Regions from separate parts of the Homo sapiens genome. Here all the other regions are linked to region 1. Evidence: fine-mapped expression QTL. A gene starts in region 1. Each other region holds a variant in brackets. All regions are shown on one strand. Distances are from middle to middle.

What was found.
Region 2: its variant is fine-mapped to the expression of SLC45A4 in whole blood (TOPMed, PIP above 0.99). The same link has a PIP of 0.9 or more in monocytes after R848.
Region 3: its variant is fine-mapped to the expression of SLC45A4 in whole blood (TOPMed, PIP above 0.99).
Region 4: its variant is fine-mapped to the expression of SLC45A4 in sigmoid colon (GTEx, PIP 0.98).
Region 5: its variant is fine-mapped to the expression of SLC45A4 in monocytes (Quach 2016, PIP 0.95).

Annotation. Positions count from the first base shown.
Region 1 is chr8:141,305,943-141,311,042 of GRCh38, forward strand. SLC45A4 (solute carrier family 45 member 4) reads right to left here and starts at 2,346. Exons shown (of 9, transcript NM_001286646.2): 1 at 2,154-2,346. RefSeq lists silencers at 2,222-2,321, 2,342-2,581.
Region 2 is chr8:141,224,357-141,229,456 of GRCh38, forward strand. All of the region lies in intron 2 of SLC45A4 (solute carrier family 45 member 4), which reads right to left. Among named protein-coding and RNA genes, the nearest start is that of SLC45A4-AS1, 28 kb to the right of the region's middle. RefSeq lists an enhancer at 3,448-4,301. The variant T/C (reference allele first, on the strand shown) is at 2,943.
Region 3 is chr8:141,240,742-141,245,841 of GRCh38, forward strand. All of the region lies in intron 2 of SLC45A4 (solute carrier family 45 member 4), which reads right to left. Among named protein-coding and RNA genes, the nearest start is that of SLC45A4-AS1, 11 kb to the right of the region's middle. RefSeq lists enhancers at 1-624, 4,540-4,709. The variant T/C (reference allele first, on the strand shown) is at 2,959.
Region 4 is chr8:141,059,244-141,064,343 of GRCh38, forward strand. It overlaps LOC105375784 (a long non-coding RNA gene), which reads left to right. Exons shown (of 3, transcript XR_002956733.2): 3 at 735-3,250. Among named protein-coding and RNA genes, the nearest start is that of PTK2, 61 kb to the left of the region's middle. RefSeq lists an enhancer at 457-1,154. The variant G/A (reference allele first, on the strand shown) is at 2,677.
Region 5 is chr8:141,335,957-141,341,056 of GRCh38, forward strand. LINC01300 (long intergenic non-protein coding RNA 1300) reads left to right here and starts at 4,593. Exons shown (of 4, transcript NR_024441.1): 1 at 4,593-4,716. RefSeq lists an enhancer at 1-55 and a silencer at 2,774-3,068. The variant T/A (reference allele first, on the strand shown) is at 2,099.

The sequences.
Region 1 (5,100 bases):
GGGCGGGCTGGGGCGGGATCTCAGAGCTCACGGAAAGGAGGCAGAATCCGGTTTACAGGCTTGCTCCGCCCCTCCCCCACCCCCCTCCAATAAGCAAAGTTAGAGGGTGTTACAAGCTGCAAGACACACACCTTGGAGCTCACCCAGTCCAATCTCTGATCTGCTTTCACGATGCGACAAGGGCCAAAGCTGCAGCACGCATCTCGGCAGGGCAGCAGGCCACTCCCCCCACGAGGCCCGGGAGGTGGCCCTGGGCAGCCTCCCCACTCCCCGCCCTGTGAACACCTGGGCCAAAAAAACACACCTTTAAATACCCAGTGTGTATTTCAAACACATTTCAAACGATTTGCTTCTTTCCTTTACAGCCACTGCCACAAAAACAATTAGCCTGAACGGGTGTGAAATCCTTGATGTGTAAGACGACCTAGTTCCCCAGCCTCTCTCTAGAAACACATGAGTTCTTTACTGCGCCTGAGTCTCCTCCACCCGGAACCTGCAGGGCTGCCTCTTCTCATCAAGTGGCTTCTGCAAAACCTCTCCCAAGCATTTAAATAATCTCTGCTCGTTCTTTTAACAATAATTCAAACCTAGCAGAAAAGTGAGGACACTATACATTTCTTTTAAGGACAGTGTGTGTTACCTGCTCTGATCCCCATGTGTTACACTCCCTAACCTGTACACCAATACTCCAGCTTTTTGTTTTCTTATTTTTTCCTAAAGCCAGCACAAAATAACAGAAGGATAAGATTCCTACCACATTCTACCTGTCTGCCAATGACACAGGAAGGATGAGACCGTCTGGGGAATGGAAGCGCAGGGCGCTCTCAGTAATGCTGGGCAGATGCAGTGGCTTTTCCCCAGCAGAAATGGGCTTCGATTCAGAATCTACCAGCCCACAAGAATCATCTGACCCCACAACAATTAGTTCAATCACTCATCTGGTAAACCCTCCTCGCTCCGGGTCATAGACTGGAAAAGACAGCCCCCAAAACAGTAATAAAAACGACAAGCCCTGTTTTGCTGGAGTCAGCTGAGGTATCAGATGGGGGTCAGTGGCTAGGTCTGTGAACCTGAAGCCACACTCCATCAGTGACCCGCACTGGAGAGACACAAACACCTCAGGCTCCTTAGGAGGTCAAGCGGCCCTTCCCAGCCCTCCCTAGCCCCCGCCTTCTAGAATCATTCTGAATAGCTAACCAGGAGGCTGGGCCCCGTGTGGATCCGCCTCCGCTGGAAAAGCCGCTGCTGGAAGTGCTCCAATCCAGAGCAGGATACCTGGGGGAGGAACGGGTTAAGCGCAAAGGGGAAAGGGGCAGCGGGTGCTGAGACGCAGAAGGTGCGGGGACTTCTACAGAGCAGGGAATCTGGGCCCGGATGAACTGATGCCCTGGCCTCTTTCCTCCAGGGACAAGGTCGGTCTCAGGAAATCAAGGTATCTTCAAAGGGACACAAGGGAGCGCAGTGCCGATGAGACCGGGGCAGAGCCACAGTCTGGCGGTGCAGGCTGGGGGTCCGAGGCGGGGGACACTGGCTAGCAGTGCTGCCAGGGTCGTGTGTGCACTGGGCAGAGGGAAAGGAGGGGAAGAAGGGAAGGGGAAGAAGGGGAAGAAGGGAGTGTGTTCGGTTGGGAGGACCGGTCCAGACAGAGGGGAGAGGGGGCCACTTCGCGAGTGGTGTATCGCTGGTTGAATTCTCATAAGTTAGAGATAGCAGGCAGGGGTTAGAAGGACAAGACAGGGTCAGGACCAGGAGTTAGAGGCGCCAGGCTCCTCTCTGGGTAGAGAAACCGAGGAACTGGGGGCGGGGAGGACTGATGGGTGCGAAAGCGGGCCGGGTCCAAATGAAGGCGCGCGCCCCGGGGTGGGGGCCGGGGTGGGGGGAATGAGGGAGGCTGCAGGGCTGGGGACCAGGGCAGGTGCAATCCGGAAAGAGGAGGCGGGAAGGAATTGGGGGGCCCTGAGGAGCCAGCGCAAGCCGGGTGGGGGCACGTCCCCTCCCCCGGAGAAGGTGCGGGGCTGGGGCTGCGGCGCGGACCCGACCTGGAGGCCGAGGCTGTGCGGGAGGTGGGGGTGGGGAGGCTGCAGGTGCCCGGCGCCCAGGTGCGAGGTGCAGGGGGCGGCGGGGCAGGCGGCTGCGGGCGGCAGGCCACTCACCTGTCTCCTCCGGCCGGGGCCGCGGGGGCGGCGGGGCGGCCGGGCCGGGCCGGGCAGGGGCTACGGGGGCGCGGAGCCCCGGGCGCACCGGGGTCGGGAGGCGGCTGCGGGTCCGGGCGGGGGCTGCTCCCTCGGCCGGCCGGCCGGGCGGTCAGTCAGCGACGCGGGCGCGGAGAGAGCGCTGCGAGGCTGCGGCCGGCGCGCGGAGACAACGCCGCTTTATCGGGTCGGAAACAGCCGCTCCGCGCCGCTTCCGCTGACGCAGCGCCGGCCCCTGCGCCTCATGACTATGCAGCACCCGCCGCCGCGGGACGGGGATTCGGGGGGCGGGGTCTGCGCCGCGCGCGCTCATTGGCCTCCGCTGCCGCCCACCCCGCCCCCGAACGGCCGCCCCGCCCCCGCCGCGCCCCTGCCCCGCCCCCGCGCGCACCGTGGCTCCCGCCCCCGTCTCGCCATGGCCCCGCCCCCAGCCATAATCCAGCCCCGCCCCCGCCCTCCTCCCGCTACGCCCCCGGCCCCGGCCCCGGCCCCGGCCCCTCCGCACCGAGCGTCCGCCCTCTCTCCCCTAAAGCGCTGGCCCGCAATCCACCCCATCCCTCTCTGCAGCCGCAGGAGGTGGCCCCCGCCTGTCCCCACCTTCTCTCCCCGCTCCTCTCGCCACTCTGTCGCAGAGGGGTCCGGCTAGCCACGAGGCCCCGGCCCCCGGCAGCCCAGCCCCTTGGCAAGCACCCTCCCGCCCCCTCCGCCCCTGCCCGTGGCGCGGCGACATGGGCCCCATCCAGGTGCTGCAGCCCCTCCTCCGCTGCAGGAGAAAACTCTCCTGTTTTCCCCTCCCTGCCACCCTCCGAAGACCTCCTACCTGGTCCCGGACCACGCCCCCGTCCCCAACTCCCCCAACGCCCCGCGCTCTGCGGGTCCCCTCTCCAACCTGGAGAGCGGGGCAGGACGAAGACCCGACCCGGAGCTTCCTGGAGGCTGGGCCTCCCTCTCAGGCTTGGCCCTGGCCAGGGACACTGATCCGTCTCTCCCCACGTGTAGAAGGGCCACAATCCCTAGGGCAGGACTGCTGGGAAACCCCATCAAGACAAGGTCTGGGGAGGCGGCTTTAACAGACAGATGTGATGGGCTGAGGCCAACCCTGTTAACGTCGCAGCCCTGCACCCTTGCCAGGGTTTAAGTTGCTTTGGAGGAATTACTTCATTTCTCAGAACCTTGGCGTCCTCATCTGTAAAATAGAAATCGTAAGATCCATCTCACCTGTTGCTAAAGGAATTTAGAAGTGAAGTGCAGAGCAGAGCCTCCAAGAGCATCGGAAATGGGAAAATCTGACCATATCAAGTGTTGACAAGGAAATGGAGCAACTGGAACTGCCAGACACTGTTGGTGGACATGCAAAGTGGTACAACTTTCAAAATCTTTTTGAAAGGCCTTGATTACCCAGCAATTCTGCTCCTAGATACACACCTAACATTGTGTTTCTGTTGATAGCAGCAGTGTTTATAATTGCCCCAAACTGGAAACTACTGAAATGCTCATCAGCCGTTAAATGGATACATAAATTGTGATATATTCACACAGTGGAATGACAGCAATGACAGTGAATAATCAACTACACACAACAACATGGATGACTCTCACAAATGATGTTGAGGAAAAGAAGCCAGAGGATAAAAAGCCATATTTGTTTCCATGTGGATAAAGTGGTAGAAGGTGTATATGGGGGTAGCAGTCAGGATAGTGGTTACCCTTGGAGGGAGGGGTGCCAGAGCCAGGAAGCAGGGCACAGAGGACGTGTCTGGGGGCTGGCTGTGTTCTGTGTCTTGGTCTGAGTGCTGGTTACAGTGTGCTCAGTTTATGATGACTTTTCCAGCTGTGCAGTCAAGATGCATGTGCCTGTGGGGCACGGTGATTCACGCCTGTAATTCTAACACTTTGGAAGGCCAAAGCGGGTGGATTGCTTGAGCCCAGGAGTTTGAGACCAGCCTGAGCAACATGGTAAGACCCTATCTCTATTAAAAAAAAAAAAAGACGTGTGTGTTTTTCCATGTGTATGCAGTATCTCAACAGAGGGTTAGTAAGTACATCAATGGTCTGTAGACAGTCCAAAGCAGCATCAGACACATCATGAGTGCTCAAACTGTACATCTGCTTCCCTGGTGATTTTTCTTTCAATGGCCAAAGGATAGAGGCAGCGGCAATTCCAGGTGTGCTGTGAGCCAACTGTGTGAGCCTGGGCGCCTACTTAACCTCCCTGAGTCCTCTTCTATAAGTGAGCATTCTAATAGTACCTAGTTCACAAGTTGTCCTGAAGCTTAAACAAAATAGCAAAATGATGCTTTTTAAAATGACAATACAATCAAGAGGACAGAACAGGTAAAGACTTTGTTTATTCACAAATTGCTGGTATTGATTGAATTGTCTTCATTGTCATTCATGCAGTAACCAACTACTGAGTGTGTGCCTACTATGTGCCACACGCTTTGCTGGGTCCTAGTACTGGAGCTGGGAACATGATCCCATCTCTCTTCTTAAGGAGTGCATTGTGGGGTATGTACCAGCCATGGTAGCCATGGAGCCCAGTCTAGGATCAGCCTTGTAGTAGGTGCTCCATAAGTATTTCTTGGGGCTGGGCATGGTGGTGGCTCATGCCTGTAATCCCAGCACCTTGGGAGGCCGAGGTGGGTGGATTGCTTGAGCTCAAGAGTTCTAGACCAGCCTGGGTAACATGGCGAAACCCCATCTCTATTAAAAATACAAAAATTAGCTGATTGGGGCAGTGTGCATCTGTGGGCCCAGCTACTTGGGAGGCTGAGGCGGGAGAATCACTTGAACCTGGCAGGCAGAGGTTGCAGTAAGCTGAGATCGCACCACTGCGCTCCAGCCTGGGCAATAGAATGAGACCCCATCTCAAAAAAAAAAAAAAAAAAGCCTCTAAAAGAGTAACTGA
Region 2 (5,100 bases), 82 kb before region 1:
GGAGCTTTATGAATTTGTAGATTTATACGTTTCACCAAGTTTAGAAAACATCCCGTTCATCCCGTTACGTCTTACTTCAAAGCTGTGAGTTTTTTGGTTTTGTTTTGTTTTTGGAGACAGGGTCTTGCTGTCACCCAGGCTGGAATGCCGTGGCACAATCTCAGCTCACTGCAACCTCCGGCCTCCTGGATTCAAGCAATTCTTGTGCCTCAGCCTCTCGAGTAGCTGGGTACAGGTGTGCACCACCACACCCGGCGGCTAATTTTTGTATTTTTTGTAGAGACAGGGTTTTGCCATGCTGGCCAGGCTGGTCTCAAACTTCTGAGCTCAAGCAATCTGCCCACCTCGGCCTCCCGAAGTGCTGTGATGACAGGCGTGAGCCACTGCACCTGCCCCTGCAAAGGTTTTACATCCCATTCTCTATTTCCTTTCTTCTGGGGTTCCCATGACAGACATCAGACCTTTGAGATCATCCCTCTGTTTCCTGGAGCATTCTTCATTTCTTTTTTCAGGCTTTAATCTCTATATGATCATTTCTGTTGACATATCATGAAGTCCACTGACTCTTCTGTCCCCTCCAATCTGCTGTTAACCCCATCTGGTTCATTTTCTATTTTGATACTGTAGTTTTCAGACCTAGAATTTCCACTTGGCTCTATTTCTGTAGCTTCCATTTCTCTGCTGGGACTCTGTGCTCTCCATTCTGAGCATGTTTTCTGTCCTTGGGTGTAGTTACGCACACCCATCTGACCAGTGCGACACGCGACATCATCGTGGGTCAGCCTCCACTGCTGCCGTCCTCCAGCAACGGTCGCCTTTTCTTTTTTAAAAAAAACATGTCTAATAACATTGAGTTGTATCCTAGACACTGTGAATGATGTGTCATAGACTACACTGCTATATTCCTCTGAGAGTGTTCATGGTTTTATTTAACACGAGGGTTTGAAATTCCCGCCCCATCTCCTAACTCCACCCGAACTCTGCCTGTGGGTTCTTCAAGAAAGGCAGAGTGGAGTTAACTATCCAAGTTTCAGCCACCCTGTGTTGCGTCAACGAAGGCCAACAGTCGGGTTAAAAGCGGTGCCAAGAGAGAAACCCAGGCATTCCCTCTTCCAGCCATCACCTTCCTACTTGGTTTCTGCCCCAAGCGCTGGCTGGGTGTCAGGAGGGTGGGGAGGACCTGCAGGTGCGACCCAGCCCACCTAATCTAGAGGAGGCGCTGCGTGCACAGGCCTGTCCCGCCTTTGTGCTGCCAACCCTGGGAGCCGGGAAGACGCTGGGTCCGGAGCAGCCCTGGACCAGGCAGCCGTCCCCAGCCCAGAAGGGAGGCTTCTCACCCCGGGAGACAAGAAGGCACAGGGCACTGGGGGGAACCGCTAGGCCCGGGCCAGGCCCTCGGCTCCCAGTCCTCCTGTGGAGGCTGCTTCTCCACCCTTGTCCCACAGGCCCCTCCAGAGCCTGGTGGGACCCGGCCCCAGGCCTCCCTGGGCACCTCCACCCGCCAGCCTCCTCCCCTTTGCCCTCAGCTCTGACTCCTATAGTCCCCACAGCTGCCCCAGCCTCCGTGCGGCCCCGGCCCTGGTCTCTCCTGTGTTGCCAGCCCCCAGCCCTAGGTCAGGCCTCCCCACGCCTCTCTCTGACTCCCACTAACTCACCCCTACATCTGGCCGGCCTGCCTTGGGACCCAGGTCAGCCCCTCAAACCACACAGCTGCCATGGACTGTGCCTGGAAGCCTTGGACCGTTCCTCATGGCCTGACATCGTGATTTTAACTTTACACCCTGCGGTGTCAGGGCCCGCGTTCCAATCCTCAACAAGACACTGTGGGGCTTCCTTTCTCCATCTTTCCCCTCTGCTTGGACAACCCCAAGTCTACACGTCGGGACTGGCACTTGGCACATTCAAAGGGGATCAGTGGAGACACAGAGCCCACCGTGGCACCACCGCCCGTGCCTCCCACCCACGATGCTCAGTGCGGCGAGCAGCACACGGGCCTCCTGCTGGGGTGCTCTCAATGCTGGTGCGCAAGGTGCCCTGCCCCACGTGCTTTCCCTGGAAGGGGCGGCACGCCTTGGCACCAAGCATCTACACCCAACGACAGCTGTCGCTGCTGAACCTCTCGGTGGGCCTGGCGCCACCCCAGGTGCTGGCCTGTCCCCTCTGGAGGAATCCAGAATCTGGCCAGAGCAGGAGACCCACGACTGGGGTACACAAGGCAGGAGGGTTGCCAGGGTCGCAGGCGGCTTCCCTCGGGAGTGGTCACGGGGTGAAGGCCGCAGACACCATGAGCAGGTCAGGCCGAGGATGGAGAGACAGGCCGGGGGGCCGGGACAGGGCCAGCAGTGTCTGTCTCATTCTTCCCTCCCCAGTCAGCCTAAAAGTGAATTCCAGGCTGCAAGGAAAGCTCAAGCCCAATAGGAAGTCAGCGACTCCATCTCAGTCCCCAGCACCTGAGGCAGCACGGCCACGGGACGCCTGCCGGGTGCCCACAGAGCCAGGCTGCAGGAGTGAGTGGTCCCGAGTATCAGGGGACAGCTTCCTTTGTTTTAAGCACCTTGGCAAGAAAAATAAACACTTTTCATCGTATCTTCAAAACGGCCCCGGGAGGGCACAGCTGCCGCCTCCCTGCCTCGCAGGTCCTGCTCTGACGTCCCCGGCGGTGAGAACTCGGTCTCCCCCGTTCGTAGCAGGGGGCTGCCACTGGGACGGCTCTGACGGGGCATTTCCCAGCCCGGCTCCAAACACACACAACGCTGGGCCCAGTAAATAAGTTTTGTTTTTTCCCAGGGAAAAGTTGAACAACAATGGTGAGACCAGGAAGGCTCTCCGTTCACAGGAAATACTGTGTCACCGCTCGGCCGCAGGCTGTGTGAGGTCACGGGCGACGCTCGGGTCACGTGTGGCGGCTCCTGTTCACAGTGCCGTGTGTGATAAACTGGGAC[T/C]TTCTGGTGAGGGGAGACTGGCGGGGGGTGGGGAGGGCAAGGAGTGGGAAAGTCGCCTATAAATGTTTAACAAAAGATCCGCAATGGGAACAGGAACTTGCATTCTTTCTTTCAATGGACAAAGCTTCCACATCAAGATACGCTTGTGTGCTGGGACCAAATGCCACAGTGCGGCGAAACTCGTGAGCACAAGTCCTGCGTGGGAAAGGCTTAGCATCCTTGAGTGACCTCTGATGAATTTAAGTCAAGGAACACTGTCAGGAGCCACTTCTGAAGGGCCCCAGACAGGAAAGACACTGGGCCGGGGGAGCCGGGCCCCCAGGGCTCGGGCCACCTGCTTGCAAGAGGGGAAGGGCCACTGGCACTGGGCCCCCGGCACTGAGGCTCTGTGCTGGCGAGGGCCCCACAGCTGCAAGGAATGTTCCAGAACCACTACAGCCACAGGAAGATAGGGAGGGGGTGAAAAGAGGGGCAAGCTCAGGTGCTTTTCCTGAGCCTACTACAAACCGGCCCGTCATTTAGGGTGGAGGGGACAGCAGCACCTTGAGTGTTCTCACATGTGCCGCCTTCCCACTCCAACACCCACGGCCCACCCAGCCCCTCCCGGAGTGCCAGCCATGGCTCTCTGAACCCTGTGGGAGAATCTGGCATTGAAGGGCCGGGGACAATAAGTTCCCGGGCTTTGGCCTTTTGTAGGAGAGGAGGAATTGAAACTTGAAACCCAGGACCCAGCGCCTCATTTCTAGAGGGTGAGGCAGAGCCCTGAGGGGAGAGCTGTGTGGAGTGGAGCTGTTGGGTGCCCGAGAGGCTGTGGCTCACCGCAAGCTTTAGATGGAGTGATCTGGGTGGAGGCAGCAGTTTTGAAATTGAGCATTCTAACCTTTCTGAAGACTCCATTGATTTGACCTCAGTGGACTCACAAGGGTCTTTGGACGGGACAGCCCTGAGGCTGGGCTTGCTTTCCCCATAGATGATGCTGTCCCTGCCGCCCTGTGCCAGGCACCTCCCAGCAACTCCCAGGGGGCCACTGTTTCTCCTCTTCAACAAGGAGGGGCGCCTCAACAGCCTGGCTAGAGGCCCCTGGCCAGACCCAAGCAGGACGCTGGCGCTCCAGAAAGCCAGCGGGAACATTCCGCAGCTGCTGTCCTGTCTCAGGGCCGACCCTGTGTCCAGCTTGTGGGCACCTGTCTTCACTGGCAGGCACCTGTCTTCACTGGCCAGCTCCTCGGGCAGGCACTCCCCGCAGCTGGAGCATGGGCTCCTCTCTGCCCTATCAGCACAGCCACCCATTCTCGGCTCTTTAAAACAGATGTTGCAACAAGCAAACATCTTTGTGATGACACAGTGATGTTATCGTAGCTGTATAAACAACCGTATGGCCTTTGGCCTGAGATTCCGGAAGCTTCCTGAAGAGCACAAAATGCAGGTCAGGCCATGTCCTGCAGCCCTGGCTAAGCTCAGGGGTCAATCAGTTCCAGAAGCCAACAGCTACCCCAGGCCTTGGAAGAGAGAAAGGAAAGTTCTAATTCAATACATCCCAAACCCATCTCTGGATGTGCCGCTTCATATCTAGACCTCCTCTGGGGTCCCCTAACTCAGAGAAAAGGCTCTGTCACCCACCACTCATGCTGTCAGGACCCCGGGCACCAACACCACCCGCCCCACAGCCCACCTGGCGCCAGGTGCCGCTGCCTCCTCGGCTGCACATCCCCGCCGTACACTTGTCTCCCCATCGGCTCCTCCCGCCCATGGGACCTTCGAAGACACTGCTGCCTCTGCCTGAAGTACTTTACCTTCCCCCCTTACCTGACATTCAATAACTGCTTAGTGCCCTTAAAAGAGCTGCACTCTCAGGAGCAGAGTTTTGTGAGCATAGCAGGCTTCCAACTGACCCCTGGTTCCTCCCTCATCCTCCGTAACCCACCCGCCACCTGCAGTCAGAGTGACCACCTAAAACCCACTGCTTGCACCTGCCGTGGCGTCCAGGGCCCTCAAAGTCCTGCCTCATGCCTGCAGCCCACAACACCCTACCCTACCCACTGGCTGGACAGCCCATGCCAGACCGCTTCCCTCTCCACACCAGACTCCAACCGCCCACCCCACCCTACCTCCTCTTCTAGAAAACACCAGGCTCACATCCCGCTCAGAACCTCAGCCA
Region 3 (5,100 bases), 65 kb before region 1:
TCTCACAAATAAATAAGTAAAATGAGAAACCGGCTGCCCGACACTGTGATTGGATCCTAGCTCTGAGACACCACACGCATCACCTGCCGTGCTGCAGTGGAGACGCATGTGGATGTGCAGAGTGGGGCCTGCAGGACGCTTCCCAGACAAAGCCCTCCTCTCCCCTCCAGACCGTCCTGTGAGGGCAGCTGGGGGCAGCCGCCCGGATCCATGGGAGGGGGAGTATCTTCCTGGGTCTTGACTAACATCGGGGCCACTTCACACCCTCCCGCTCTCCCCGCTTTGGGGCGCTGTGGGCCTATGGGCACCGGTTTGTGGGTGTGCTCTCATCTCCTTTATGGGACTCAGCCTGGGGCTAAGAATGTACATATTTTTAAAAGTCTCCTCCAGAAGTGCATCGTTCAATAAATGGTGTGGAAATGTAGTGCATAACACACACAGCGTCACAAACGGCCAGGCTGCGGTGAGCAGTGGCTCTGCGGGCAGGCGGAGCAGCAGCACAGCCAAGAAGGGCGACAGACGGCTCACCGGCAACGTGGTGGACACAGAACCAGAGGCTTTATCTGCACTGTTGTTCTCCAAGAGTTGCTCTGGGGACAGTGGCGAGGTCCAAGGACGCTTGCCTATGGTGCGACTGTGTAGAAGCTGGGGATGTTGCTGCCTTCGGGGAAGGGAGATGGGAGGCTGCGGGACAGGAGTGGACGGAAACCTCGCTGTCTGCCCTATGGTAACTTCTCAACTCTGAACTTGGTGAAGGCGCTGTCCATTTAAGAAAGTAGAATTCATATTTTAAAAACAGTGCCTTTGCATCCATTACAATACAGTCAAAGAAAAAAAAAAGAAAAACAGCTTCCCTTTTGAGTCAGGTCTGGGAACCGCTGGTGGGCTGGCTCTGTGGGGCAGGACCTGCTCAGGGGATGGTGCTGACAGGGTCCTCTGGGGACAGGTGGGCTGTCTCTCCCTTCACAGCCAGCCAGAGGTCTGGGCACCCCCACTGCCTCCAAGCCTTTCCTCCCAGGCCTGGGAGCCCAGCAATCCCCCCAGCACTAGGAGGGACCACTGCTTCTGCTCTAGAGCGCCTTCAGAAAAGGACGTGGCTGTGTGGAATCAAGGATTCAGGTCCCATCCTGGCCAGGCAGAAGTGGGGGCAGGGCCATTCCTGCCGGGACACAGATGGCAGCTGTGAAGGCATGGTGCATACAGGGACAAGACAAGGGAGTGTATGGTGGCCTTCGCACGGACAGCGGGACAGCCCGAATCTCCAGGTCAGACAGAAAAGAGCAGGCAGCCCTCCTCATGGCTGGGAGCCTATCCTCAAGCTCCCTGCACAGATGAGATGAAAAGAGAGGCGCATCCCGCCAAGTGTGGCCATCATTATACGCACATTTAGCCGAGATCACAGGGAACAACTGGCAACTGAAAATAAAAACCCACAGACTCAAACTTCACCGTGAAAGAAAAACAAAATCCTCCACAGCTAAGAGTGATGACCAGGACGATGATCAAAAGGCCCAGAGTCTTCTAAATAATCCAGCTCATGTGACAGATAGAATTTAAGAAATAAAATAAGTACTGGAATCACCGTGATTTTTAAATTTCTTAAACCTAGGTATCTAATAGGCCAGGCCCAAGTGACTTCCACAGCGGGAATGAACGTGGCTCCTGGCTGTGACAATTCTACATTGTTTTCCCACAGAGGATGTTTAGACCAGTGGGGGAAGTGCTGTGATTAGAAACGCGGGCTCCAGTATCAGAAAGAACACCATACTCCCCCATTATCAAGAACGGGCGAGACAGTGCTGGGAAAAGAGCCTGAGGGTCTCATGAGAATACAAAGTTGCTCAGTTCGTAGCTTGCTGCAGCTCCCGTGGTACATCGGTGAGTGCCCCAGATAACAAGCCCAACACTGACCCTGGACAAGTCGCTGAGTCAAACTCCTCCATTAGGCAGCTTGCCACTCCCTGCTCTCACTCACAGGCTGCTGGGAAGAGAGCCGGCAGATACTGTCTTCCACGAGCACCTCAATGCACAGGCCCGAGACTGGAGGCCACACGTTGGGGGAGCCCATCTACCACCATCCTGGGTTTATACAAACACCGCGGGAAGCTGAATGTGGACCTGAATGTGTATCCCAGGCCACGCAATGTGGTAGGAGGCTATAGAATCTCTCACAAGAGGCGACGGGATTTTCAAACCTAAGCCAGCCCGTGTGCAGCGGGGAGCCGGCAGGGCGAGGACCCATCTACCGGGTGGTGACAGAGAGCTCCACCTCCAAGACTTTGCTGGGAGCCACAGAAAAACCTGCTAGAGTTGGGAGTATTACTCCTGCTCCGGGGTCCCTCCACACACTGTCAGTCCCCCTCTGAGCACCACCTTGCAGCAACCTGTTTCCATGACTGTCCTCCCCACCGGGCCACCAGAAAGTCAGGGGGACCCCATGTCTGCCTTCTGTGTCCCAAGACACTGCATGTGGCTCAGCAGGTCCTCCAATGTCGGAGGGAGGGCAAGGTTTGAGCAAGCCTACACAGCGGTGTGGGGATGTGACCGAGAGCAGCTCCGCCAGGTGCCCCCCGCCGCAGCAAGCACGAAGCGCAGTGGCATCTGTGTCAATGGCGCTCTCATTCCCACAAACTAGAAAGGCTTTTTAAGAACAGGAAAAGCCGTTCCTTCCGCTGTCAGAAAAACAAAACCACTTGCCATCAACCATACTAAACCTGAAATGACATTTGCCAAAAACCTTTCAAGATTTAAATACAGGCCGGGTGCAGTGGCTCACACCTATCATCTCAGCACTTTGGGAGGCTGAGGCAGGAGGATGGCTTGAGCCTAGGAGGTCAAGGCTGCAGTGAGCCGTAATCGCACCACTGTGCTCCAGCCTGGGCGACAGAGACCCTGTCTCAAAAATAAATTAAAATACAGTTGACCCTTGAACAACGTGGGTTTGAACTGTACCGTCCA[T/C]TTACACAGATTTTCTTCCGCTTCTGCCACCCGAGACAGCAAGACCCCCGCTCCTGATCCTCCTCAGCCTACTCAACATGAAGATGAGGATGAAGGCCTTTATGACGGTCCACTTCCACATAATGAATAGGAAATACATTTCTCTTCTTAATAATTTTCTTAGCTATGTTTTCTTCAGGTTACTTTACTATAAACATATAATACATATAATATAGAAGGTATGTGTCAACTGACTGCTTATATTATTGGTAAGGCTTCCAGTCAGGAAGCTGTTGGTAGTCAGGTTTTAGGGGGAGTCAAAAGCTACACATGGATTTTTGACTGTATGGGGAGTTGGCACCCCTAACCTGAGCTGCTCAAGGGTCAGCTGTATACCCAACTGCCCTCCCAATCAACTCGGCTACTTGGGAGACTGCGCCCCTATTCTTCATGGTGCGCTCCGCCTGTCCTGAGGTCACAGGAGGTTCTGTCTCGGGCACAGTGCTGACTGGTAACACCTGGGTTTGAAAGGCCTCTTCCCTGCCCTGCCTGCAGGAGGTTCCCCTGTGCCTCCTCCAAGCGAGCAGCTCCAGATGGAGTCCAGCCCATGCCTGGGCCGGAGGCAGAGTAGCCTCCAGCCTCCTCCGGAATGTAATACATCAGCTTCTGACCTGGGACAGGAGCATGTGGCCATATGAGGCATCCAAGGCAGGTCAATTTCTCCTTCATCAGCAAGTCACTCGTTCAGTCCTGCAAGTCTTTGTTCCACACTGGGCATGGGAACAAAGGTGAGTTGGACCTTGTCCTTAGGGGATGCACAGTCTAGGAGGGAGAGGGCAACCTTCAGGAACAACGGGTGGAAAGACAGGGCTGCAGGGGGTCCTGGAGCACATGTGAACACTGAAGAGATGCACACACTGTGGAGTGCGTTGAGTGGGAGCATGCAGAGGGGCCAGGCCAGGCGGATGTGAGCAGTAAACAGCTGCAGAGACAAGTCTGGCCTGGAGATGGGCTGTATTTCATCAAATCCAAGATGCCACCATTTTCGAAAGCACTGCTCTCTCAAACATACTGAATGTGACAGACCCTGGAGTTGTCCAGTGTGACACCGACGGGGCTCAGGACGGGACACACACAGGACAAGAGTGAGGGAGGGCAGAGCCGGAAACCAGGCCCACTCAGCCCTGTGCGATGGGAGACAGGGCCAGCACCAGGGCCCAGAAAACCTCTGAGTTTGGAAATGAGGACATCCCTGCGCATTCAGCAAGAAGACGTGGGTGGGGGGGGGGGGCGGTGTGGAGGTGGAGGCTGGGCTAGAGTGGGGTGCAATGAATGAGGTGCAAACTGCCCCACTGAGTGACTTTTCCACAGTAAGTGTGAGGCAGGCCCTCGACAAGTTACCACCAAGGCTGCTGACTACGAACCCAAGTGGAGAAAAAGATAATGACAGTAATAACAGCTAACAATTACAGGCTCTGTTCTAAGCACATCATATGTGTCAACTCTGCACACGTTTCCAGAAGAAAGGAGATGCTGGTATCTGCTGAGATAAGTAAGGCTACACACTTGGAACATGGTCGATTTTTGGATTCTCCAAGAGGAGCCAACATTGGGTTGCTGGCTGCTGCTACCTCCACCACCACCGTTTCGAGGAGGGACAGGAAATCTCTGTCACTTGAGCAAATAATGGAAATGAAAGAGAAACCAGAAACAGGACTTGAATCATCATCATAAAGGAAAGTGTTAATTCATCACTCAACGAACAATGGGCCTTCCGCTCCATCACGTCTTCTGTCCAGGGTTCCCAGAGCCCCCTTTACTGCTTGCCTCCCCCAGGGCTGACCCGGGGGGCAGCCAGCAGAATCCCAGAGCATCAGGGACTCCCAGGAGACCCCAAAATCTGGTCTCAGCATCATAAGCACACCAAAGTCACCTGATGGCAGACAACTCCCAACCTGCCGCTCAGAGGAGGCTGGACTCTTAGAGCTAGATGGGACTCACAGACCCTCAGCGTGTCCCAACCCCAGACCAGCCTTAGGCCCAGGAGTCAAGGGCAGGGGGAAGGGAGGGGCCTCCCAGGGGCAGCAGCACTGTCTGCCAGCAGCATCGCAGGCAGTGTCACCACTAACTTCTGAAGAAGATAGCACACTGCCTGGGCTAAGG
Region 4 (5,100 bases), 250 kb before region 1:
GACCTCAGACTGCACAAAAGGAGGCTTTGACATTGGTTGGGAGAAGGGAAGTCAGGAGGGAGGAAGGAGCTGGTGTGTATTTTTGGATGTAGCTCAGGAATCTGCTCCTCCCTCCAGCACCATGGCAACAGGCCTCTGAGAACTGCTGATCTGACGGTGGGGGCGGGCTGGGGGTGGAGGGCAGCTCTGTGGCCCTGGGCGAGTCGATTCCCCTCTCCGAGCCTCAGTTTGGGCATCTGTTTTGTGGGGATGGCCATACGGGTGGGGCGGTGGCTGGGAGGAGTCCCAAGGGGCCAGACCCATAGTGGTTAGCTCCTCGGAAACATTTTTAGGGGGAGGGAGGGGGCTGCAGGAGCATCCTGGGTGGTCCCGAGTCCAGAAGGTTTGGCAAGGCCATCAGGAGTCCTTGAGCCTAAGTGGCCCCTCAGAGTCGGCCTGCACCTCTCAGGACCGGGCCTGCCTCGGTGGCCCCACTGCACCCAGTTTCCAGCCAGGAGCCCCCGTGGGAGGCAGGATGGCAGCTGGGTCCCGCAGCCCCTGAAGCCGGAGGGCTGGGCGGCAGGTCCTCACAGCCGCCCCTGCACAAGCGCACCCCCAAAGCTCCAGGGCTTTTGCTGTTTCTAGAACTCCACCAGAGCAGGAAATGGGGGGATGAGCCCCATATTTGTTTCCCAGGGTTGTCATTAAGAAACTGCCACAAACCGGCTTAAAACAACAGAATTTATCTCTTGCAGCCCTGGACGCCGGAAATCTGAGATGAAGGTGCCGGCAGGGCCCTGCCCGCTCTGAAGTCTCTGGGGGAAGCTTCTTTGCCTCTTCCAGCTTCTGGTGGCTCCACGCACTGCTGGGCTCGTGGCTGCCTCCCTCTGGTCTCTGCCCCGGTCTGCACGTGGCCTTCCCTGCGTGTTTCTGTGTCCTTGCTGCTGCTTAGAAGCACAGCAGCCATTGGATTAGGACCCACTCTCATCCAGCATGGCCTCATCTTAACTCATTACGTCTACAAAATCTCCATTTCCAAATAAGGTCCCATTCTGGGGTCCTGAGTGGACACGGCGGGGACACCATCAACCCATCCTAAGGCCTTCTTGGGCAGCCTCAGGGGGAAGCCGGACCAGCCTTAAGTGAAAGTGGAGGGTTCCAAGGATCCTACAAAGGGGCCCTGACCCAGTCGGTGGGCAGCAGGGGACAGAGTGGACGTGGAACTTGTAGACAGACAGAACGATGCACAGGACTCACCCCCACCACCAGAGGTCTGTGTGCAGAGACGACAGAGGGCAGCGTCCCTCCCACTGCCCATCACCCATGGAGTGTGGAAAATCCCGGTCAAGACAGCAGCCCGGGCCGTGAAATCGAATCTGGGGGTCCCAAGCATCGGCGTTTGTGCAGCTCTCGGTGGTTCCAAAGTCAGCCAAGATCTCGGTTCTGGGCCGCCAGGGGCTCTGGAGTCAGACACCTCGTGTCTAAGTCTCCACCAGTTACTGACCGAGCGACCTCAGCAGTACGTTCACCGCTCCGGGTGTCCCTGTCCCCTGTGGATGGCATCATTGCCTCCCTTATGGAGATGAGAAGAATCAAACGGGAACGTTGGCTCCGTGCCTGTCACGAGGGAAGTGCTTGATAGACGGTGCCCTTCTGCGCCACGTAGAGAGAAAACCGAGGGAGCCTCATTTAAACTGCAGGCCTGGGAAGGCCTGTGGACTTTCAGGGAAGCTGAGAAGGGGCCCTGGCACCGGTCTGCATGCCAGCTGGGCAGGGCAGGGTGAGCCTGGTGCATATACCTGGGGCCACACAGCAGGGCCTCATGCTTCTTTTTTGGACCCACTTGACGGATGGGGAGACTGAGTTCAGAGAGGCCAAGTGGCTTGCCAGGGTCACGCAGCTGATACACAGCAAATGGATTTTAAACCCACCTGACCGCAATTCCAAGCATTGTTTTCTTGGGTCAAACCTTGGGAGCTCAAAGGGTGATCCTGACCTGTGATGGCTCCATTTTATGCAGAATATTTTGTTTTGTTTTTTAATTTGCCTGTTTACTCTAATGTTCCCAGTCGTTTTCCTCCCAGGGATCCTCACTCACAAGTGGACTCTGACGGCCTCGGGGGCTCAGATTTCACAATCGGCTAAGGCTAACATAAGGCCTTCCAGGTTACAAGGCTGAAAGTTATTTTCCATCATTCATTTGTTCACTTTACATAACATGCACCTATTGAGCACCTGCTGTATACTGGGAACCAAGTTAAACACCAGGTTTGCAGAGGTGGACAAGGCCCTGTTCCTGCCTCCAGGGTCTCCAACCCATCAGGAGACGCAGGCCCTTTGACAGACACTGGTGATAAAATGACAGTGGAGGTCTGTTCAAGATACAGGCAAGTTGGATGGGTGGGGTGGGAATGCCCACTGCCCTTGAGGGTGGGCAGGGGACAGAGGTGTCATTTACGGTGGGTGTCAAGGAGTTTGGTTCAGAACAAGAGCAAAGGCGTGTGCCCCAGGATGTGGGACAGCACGTGGGAAGACAAGGTGAGGCAGACTTTGGGGACTATCAGGGGCTCCAAGTGGTTGGTGTTGGGGGTGTCGAGAAGTGGAGGTGGAGGCCAGGACAGGACAGGGGCTGGGTGAGAGGCTAGTGCAGACAGGCAGAGGGAGGCATGGCAGGGCAGTGATGGGAGGAGGAGGGCC[G/A]CTGGGGTAAGGTGTAGTCTCAGTAGTTCCGTGGGTCTGGCTGCTTCCCAGGAGCTGACTAGACCCTCATGGCCAAGTTCATAGTCCTATGCAGTCTGACCTTAGCCTACCTGCCCAGCCCAATCCCTCTGCAGCTGCCACTCACACCTTCCAGCCGAGAACATCTTCCCAGCTAGGAAACCGTCACACCTGTACACCTTTGCACCTGCTTGTCCCCTCACTCCCTGGGGCATGCCCACCCGTGCATCAGTTGAAGCCCAAATGTGCCATCATCTGAGAAACATTCCCAGTGTCCCCACAAAAAGAGGCTGGTGCCTCCTCTCGGCCACTGCAGCCTGGACATCTGCCTATTCATTCATGCTGTCGCCACACTGCACTGCCATGGCTCATGTATGTGAGTTTCCTCTTCCCTGCTGTTGAGTGTAGGCTTCTTAATTATCTCTATATATCACTAGCCCCTAGGAACAAGGTTCGCCACACAGTAGCTGCTCAGGGCTTTTGATGAAAGAAGGAATGAGATTGCTGGCAAGGTAGGTGGGGGGATGGTGGGATGGATGGATGGATGACTGGATGGAGAGAGGATGGAAGGATGGGTGGTGATAATGGATAGTTGGATGGGGAAGTGGAGGGATCATGGATCTCTGGCTGGGTGGATAAGTGAATAGGTGGGTGGATAGGCAGGTAGGGAGGTGATGGATAGGCGAATAGGTAGATAGACAGATGGGGGAGGGGATCATTGTGGATAGATAGGTAGAGGAGGAATGGTGAATACATAGATAGGCAGACAAGTGGGTGGGTGGCTGGATAGGTGGGCAGGTGGGTGGTAGATGGATAAAGGAGTGAGTGGGCAAGTTGTACTTTTTGAACCAATTTACATCTGGGCAACACAGTAAGAATAAAGGATTATGACCAAGGACAAAAGTTGCTGGGTTAGATTTCATGGAGGAGTAGGTGGATGGATGATGGGTGGGAGAGGACAAACGATAGGCTGGTGGGCTCTGTCATGATTCCCCCAAATGGGGATGCAGCAAGTCCAGTTCCAGCTGGTTCCAAGGGACGGACTCAGGTAGATGGGACGGGTGCTGATCATAATCCCAAAGACACAATCCCGATGCCGTGATCCCAAACACTGAAACCCCAAAAGGTCAAAATCTCCAAAGTCTAAATCCCCCAAATCACAATTCCAAGAGGTTAAAATCTTGAATGTTGAAATCTTGAAAGCCAAATTCTGAGGAAAGGATCAGTGCGTTTTCGGTTGTACACGAGATAGTTGCACCATGTTCACTGCATCAAGTTAGGCGAGCTAGTGCCTTGTTATTGTCTTTATTTGGAAATAGCATGGTTTAAGGAGACGTGTATGGGTGCCGAGTTGACAATGGGTGGATTTGCGGACTTTATTTCAGGTGTTGACTTGGCTGGATTAAGGAATCTGGGCGTGGGCCAGGTACGGTGGCACATGCCTGTGATCCCAGCACTTTGAGAGGCTGAAGTGGGCAAATCACTGGAGTTTAGGAGTTTGAGACCAGCCTAGACAACATGGTGAAACCCCATCTCTAAAAAAAAAAAATTAAAAAAATTAAAAAATACAAAAATTAGCCTGGCATAATGGTGCACACCTGTGGTCCCAGCTACTTGGGAGGCTGAGAAGGAAGGATCATTTCAGCCCAGGAGGTCAAGGCTGAGGAGGAAGGATCATTTGAGCTCAGGAAGTCAAACGCTGCAGTGAGCTGGGATCGTGCTACTGTCTGGGCAACAGAGTGAGACCCTGTCTCAAAAGAAAAAAAAAAAAAGAAATTTGGGTGTTTCTGTGAAGGTGCTTCCAGAAGCGGTTGGTGAGTGAGTCTAGATGGATTAGGTGGGGAAGCTCTCCCCTCACTGTTGGTGGGCACCATGTAATTGGCCAGGGGCCTGAGAGAACAAAGTAAGAAGGCAAATTGTCTCTTTTTTTGTTTGTTTGTTTGAGACGGAGTCTCGCTCTTTTGCCCAGGCTGGAGTGCAGTGGCATGATCTTGGCTGTCTGTGACCTCCGCCTCCCAGGTTCAAGCGATTCTCCTGCCTCAGCCTCCTGAGTAGCTGGGATTACAGGTGCCCGCCACCATGCCCAGCTAATTTTTGCATTTTTTTTTTCAGTAGAAATGGGATTTTGCCCTGTTAACCAGACTGGTCTTGAACTCCTGACCTCAAGTGATCCTCCCGCCTCAACCTCCCAAAGTGCTGGGATTACAGGCCTGAACCACTGTGCCTGGCCCGAATTGGTCTCTTTCTGAGAGCTGGGACTTCTCCTCTGCTGCCTTGGACATTAGAAATTTGACTCCATGGAGCTGCATTACCATATGCTGACTGTGTGTGTAAGCATTGGACATGTATGGAAAAACATCGAAACTTCCTCAGTAAACGAACAGGTGCACTTTATGTATGACTGTA
Region 5 (5,100 bases), 30 kb after region 1:
CTCTTAGTGACCATCTTCAGCTGGATCTTGCTGGACCAGAAGCCAGAGCTTTGACCCCACAGGTGTGCCCTACCTGGGCCCTGGAGGGGCAGGTCAGTCTTTCTTGAGTGCCATCCTTTCACCCATGTTTTAAGCCTCCTGTTGACAAGGATCTGGACACAGGATTACATTCCAAGTCCTTGCTCAAAGCCTGAGCCGTCTCCACCCCATCAGCCACGTTGGTTGTGTCCCTGACCCGGACCCGGCCTCCCCTGCAGACCCTCGGGGCTCCCTCCCTAATCCCACCCTTCTGCACGCACCTGGGCCAGGACATGGGCAGTCACAGCTGACAGATTGTTTAGGGGATCAGGAAGCCGGTGGGTGTGCAGCAGATGCCTGTGTGGACATGCACACATGCACACTCATGCCCGCTTCCAGGCAGGAAGACCGGAGGCTGCACGTGGGCAGCGGCGGGTGGTGGTAGTCCTTGACCAGGGTGTGAGTCCAGTTTGTCTTCAACCTGGTGCTGGGAAGTGGGGTTGGGGAGGGTGTGAGGCATCCTGGGGTCCTTGGTGGGTTAGACTCCTGAAACCCAGCAGGTTTCTTGTGTCTCTGAGCCTCAGTTTCCCCTTCCCATAGCTTGGGAAGAAGAGACTGGCATCTCCCCAGGGTTCCTATGTGGGTGACACAGATCAACGTGTCAATGGTTTCCTCACTGTCCCTATCTGACCGCATGGCCCTGCCTGTCTCTCCTCCTCCCTGGAGCCCATGTTTGGGACTTCCACATTTGGTCCCTGAGCCTTCATGGAGTAGCTCCTCTGTGGGGAACCCTGGACCAGGTGCAGCAGGGAGTCGGGAGAGAGCAGATGGACTCCCTGCACTGATGGGGCTCACGGGGCCCTGGGAGAGAGTATCAACTTGGATGGTGACGATCCAGCAGGGCCACAGCTGAATGGAGGTGAGGACGAGGGCCCACGGGGCTTGGGGCACAGTGGCTGCCTCTGCTCAGAGACAGCTTCCCAGACCACACGGCGGCCCAGCTGTGTGTGGGAGGCATAGGAGCTCTCCTGAGGAAAGGCATGGGAAACAGAGGGAATAGCAAGTGCGAAGACCTGGTATGGAAGTAAGAAGTGACCGGAGTGTTGCTTGGGGGTGGTGAGCAGGAGGCAATGCATCAGGCAGGCGGAACCCTGCCCCTCCCAGGCTGACCCCAGCCAGACGGGGAAGGACCTGGGTCCCTGCTGTGGGTGGTGAGTCCCATACATGTCCCTGCCCACCCTGTCATCCTGCAGGGAGCAAACTGATCCCAGAGGGGGTGCCCAGCCCACGCCGTGCAGCACCGCAGGGGGAACCCAGCGTGATAGAGAGCAGTGTCTTAGACCTGGCTCCAGCGCCGAGGCTGCGGCCCAATCGAGGCCGGGTCCTTCCCCTCGAGACTTCAGCCTCGGCTCTCCTGGACTTCAGGGTGACATCACCAGGGTGTTGGGGGTCTTCTGTGATCCTCCTACGAATACTTCTTTTTTTTTCTTTTTAGAGACAGGATCTTGCTCTGTTGCCCAGGCTGGAGTGCGGTGGCATGATCACAGCTCACTGCTGCCTCAACATCCTGGGCTCCAGCAATCCTCCCGCCTCAGCCTGCTGAGTAGCTGGTACTACAGGGGTGTACCACTAGGCCTGGCTAATTTTTAAAAATTATTTATAGAGACAAAGTCTCCTATGTTGCCCAGGTTGGTCTTGAACTCCTAGGCTCAAGCAATCGTCCCGCCTCAGGCCCCTGAGTAGCTGGGTCTATGGGTGGGCACCACTATGCCTGGCTAATTTATTTACTTATTTTTGTAGAGACGGGGTCTCACTATGTTTCTCAGGCTAATCTTGAACTCCTGGGCTCAAGTGATCTGCCTGCCTCAGCCTCCCAAAGCACTGGGATTACATGTGTCAACCACCGTGCCCTACCCACTTCTGTTTTATTATTGTTATTATTATTTAAGATGGGATCTCGCTGTGTCACCCAGGCTGGAGTGCAGTGGCACGATCTCAGCTCACTGCAACCTCCACCTCCCAGGTTCAAGAGATTCTCCTGCCTCAGCCTCCTGAGTAGCTGGGACTACAGGTGTGCGCC[T/A]CCACGCCCAGCTAATTTTTTGTATTTTTAGTAGAGACAGGGTTTCACCATGTTGGCCAGGCTGGTTTTGAACTCCTGACCTTGAGTGATCCGCCCACCGTGGCCTCCCAAAGTGCTAGAATTACAGGCATGAGCCACCGTGCCTAGCCTGTTTTTTTTTTATTATTTTTAAAATTTTATTTATTTATTTATCGAGACAGGGTCTTGCTCTGTCGCCCAGGCTGGAGTGCAGTGGTGCAATCTCAGCCCACTGCAACCTCTGCCTCCTGGGTTCAAGCAATTCTCCAGCCTCAGCCTCCCAAATAGCTGGGATTACAGGTGCCGGCCACCACGCCCGGCTAATTTTTGTATTTTTAGTAGAGACAGGGTTTCACTATGTTGGCCAGGCTGGTCTTGAACTCCTGACCTCAAGTGATCTGCCCGCCTTGGCTTCCCAAAGTGCTGGGGTTACAGGTGTGAGCCACTCCTGGCCTCACTTCTATTTTTCAAACCGAGGGTGATGCTTAACCCAAGAGTAGGTGCTGTCAGGCCGAAACATCTGTTCTGGTCCTTGGCTGGCTTTCCCAAGGCCCTGAGTGTCCTAGGGCCTTGTGACTTCCTCTGTGAACTGGAAAACAGCCCCCAACTCCAGTCCCTGCCTGGCTAGGCTTGCCTGAGCAGAGCAGAGGTGAGAGGCAGGAAAGATCCAGCAGCCTCAGAGCTGTGAACGGTGCCAGCCCCGTGATTGACATGTCAGCCGCACTAATAGTATCGCTTCATCTCTCCAGACTCTCCCTTTCCCGGTTTGTCCACTGTTCTGTTTGGAAATAAGGTTGTGCCCTTAGTCATACCTTGATAAGAAGGGAGACGCCCCTGCCTGCCCTCTCTCTTCTGTTCCACCTCCTCTGCCGAACGTTCAGGAGCTCCTCATTCAAAAGACCGTCAGATGAAATGTTTGCTAGAGATAACACTGTGAAGCATTTAGAAACACCTTGCACCAGCCTACTTCTTAAATACTTGTTAAAAACGAGATCACACCCCAAATAGAGTTTCATAGAATATACCTTTTTTATTTTTCATTATTTTTTGAGATGGAGTCTCACTCTGTTGCCCAAGCTGGAGTGCAGTGGCGCAATCTCAGCTCACTGCAACCTCTGCCTCCAGATTTCAAGTGATTCTCCTGCCTCAGCCTCCCAAGTAGCTGGAATTACACGCATGTGCCACCACACCTGGCTAATTTTTGTATTTTTAGTAAAGACATGTTTTCACCATGTTGGTCAGGCTGGTCTTGAACTCCTGACCTCAAGTGATCTGCCCACCTTGGCCTCCCAAAGTGCTAGGATTACAAGCATGAGCCACCGTGCCTGGCCTCTTTTTTAAATCCAGTTTTTATTCAGCAGAATGTTCCGAAAGATCCAGAGGGTAACATGTGGGCAAAGTCCCTGAGCCCTGGCTGGGGTGGCCTGGGTGGGGTTGCCTTCCTCCGACACCCAACTCATGTGGGCCCTGGGCGCCCAGCACCGGGTTCCTTCCCCCCAAACCCATCTCATCTGGACTCTGGGCACCCAGCGCCGGGTTCCTTCCCCCAGGCCTTGAGCCTGGCTTTGCAGCTCCTGCTGCCCCAGGGCAGGTGGTGGTGGCCGCCCAGCCCTCACCCAGCCCCGAGTCCTGTGTGGAAGGCGATTCCTCCCACTTTACCGGGGAGGACACAGAGGCTGAGCGTGGTCACGGCCGGAGCCCCAGCGCAGCATCTGAGCTGCAGGCTGGCCGCCCCCCACCCCGCTGCACCCCCATATTCCACTCACAGACCTTCTTCCTGCTGAACACAGCTGGGCCCTGACGCCTCTGTGCCTTGGCCACAAGGCACCTTCTGCTCACTCAGCTGTCCCTCCAGTCCCCGTAGGGCTGCAGACCCAGGCCCACCCAGTCACAGGCCTGGCAGCGAGGGGGAACAAAAGGGTCAAGGGGCCGCCCAGGGCTGGGAAGGGCCTTGCTCCACCTCGCTCTCCTCCATTCCCCGTGTGGGCCTCCGTCTCCCATTCTGTGAAATGACCCGTTTGGGCCACAGGGTCCCCAAGTCCTCTTGGCTTGGGGCCGTCTGTTCCAAGAGGAGGGGCCATATTGGTCCTTGAGGCCCCTGCGGCCCAGTAAGTCTGCAGTGAGGCCTCCCTGGACGTATATATCAACAAAAAGTCAAACTCCGTAAAGTGTTTGAGACATTTATTCTGAGCCAAAGATGAATGGCCGGGGGCCCATGACAGCCCCAGGAGACCCTCAGACCATGTGTTCAAGGTGGTCGGGCCACAGCTAGGTTTCATACATTTTAGGGGGACACAAGGCATCAATCAATACACATAAGCTGTACATTGGTTACGCCTAGAAAGGCGGAACCACCGGAAGCGGGGATGCTTCCAGGTCATAGGTGGATTCGAAGATTTTCTGATTGGCCGTTGGTTGAAAGAGTTATTGTCGGTAGATAGGAATGTCTGGGTTAAGATAATGGGTTGTGCAGACCGAGGTTTCATCATGCAGATGAAGCCTCCAGGCAGCAGACTGCAGAGAGAATGGATGGGAGATGTTTATTATCAGACTGAAAGACTGTTCTGCCAGTCATTCCAAAAGGGAGGGGGGATAACAAGGTATGTCCGTCTCCCGCTTCCCACCGTGGCCTGAACTCGCTTTTCAGGTTCACTTTGGAATGTCCTTAGCCAAGACGAGGGTCCGTTCGTTTGGCTGGGGGTCTTAGGATTGATTTTCTGGTTTCCATATGCAATGGGAGTGGGGGAGAGATGGGGTGGGGGCAGCCTGAGGCTCAGCCCTGGCCAAGGAAGCCCCCTCCAGGCATTGGCCAGGTTCTGACTCCTACAGTGTTACAGCCGGCAGGGAACTTGGACCCACAAGCTCCTCCCCTCCCCAAGCCTCAGTTTCCTTGTTTGTAAGATGATGCCTGGGGTCCTTGCTTCCTTGTAGGGCTCAAACAAGATCCCAGGCTCTATTAGGAACAGTGCCAAGGCAGGGGGCCC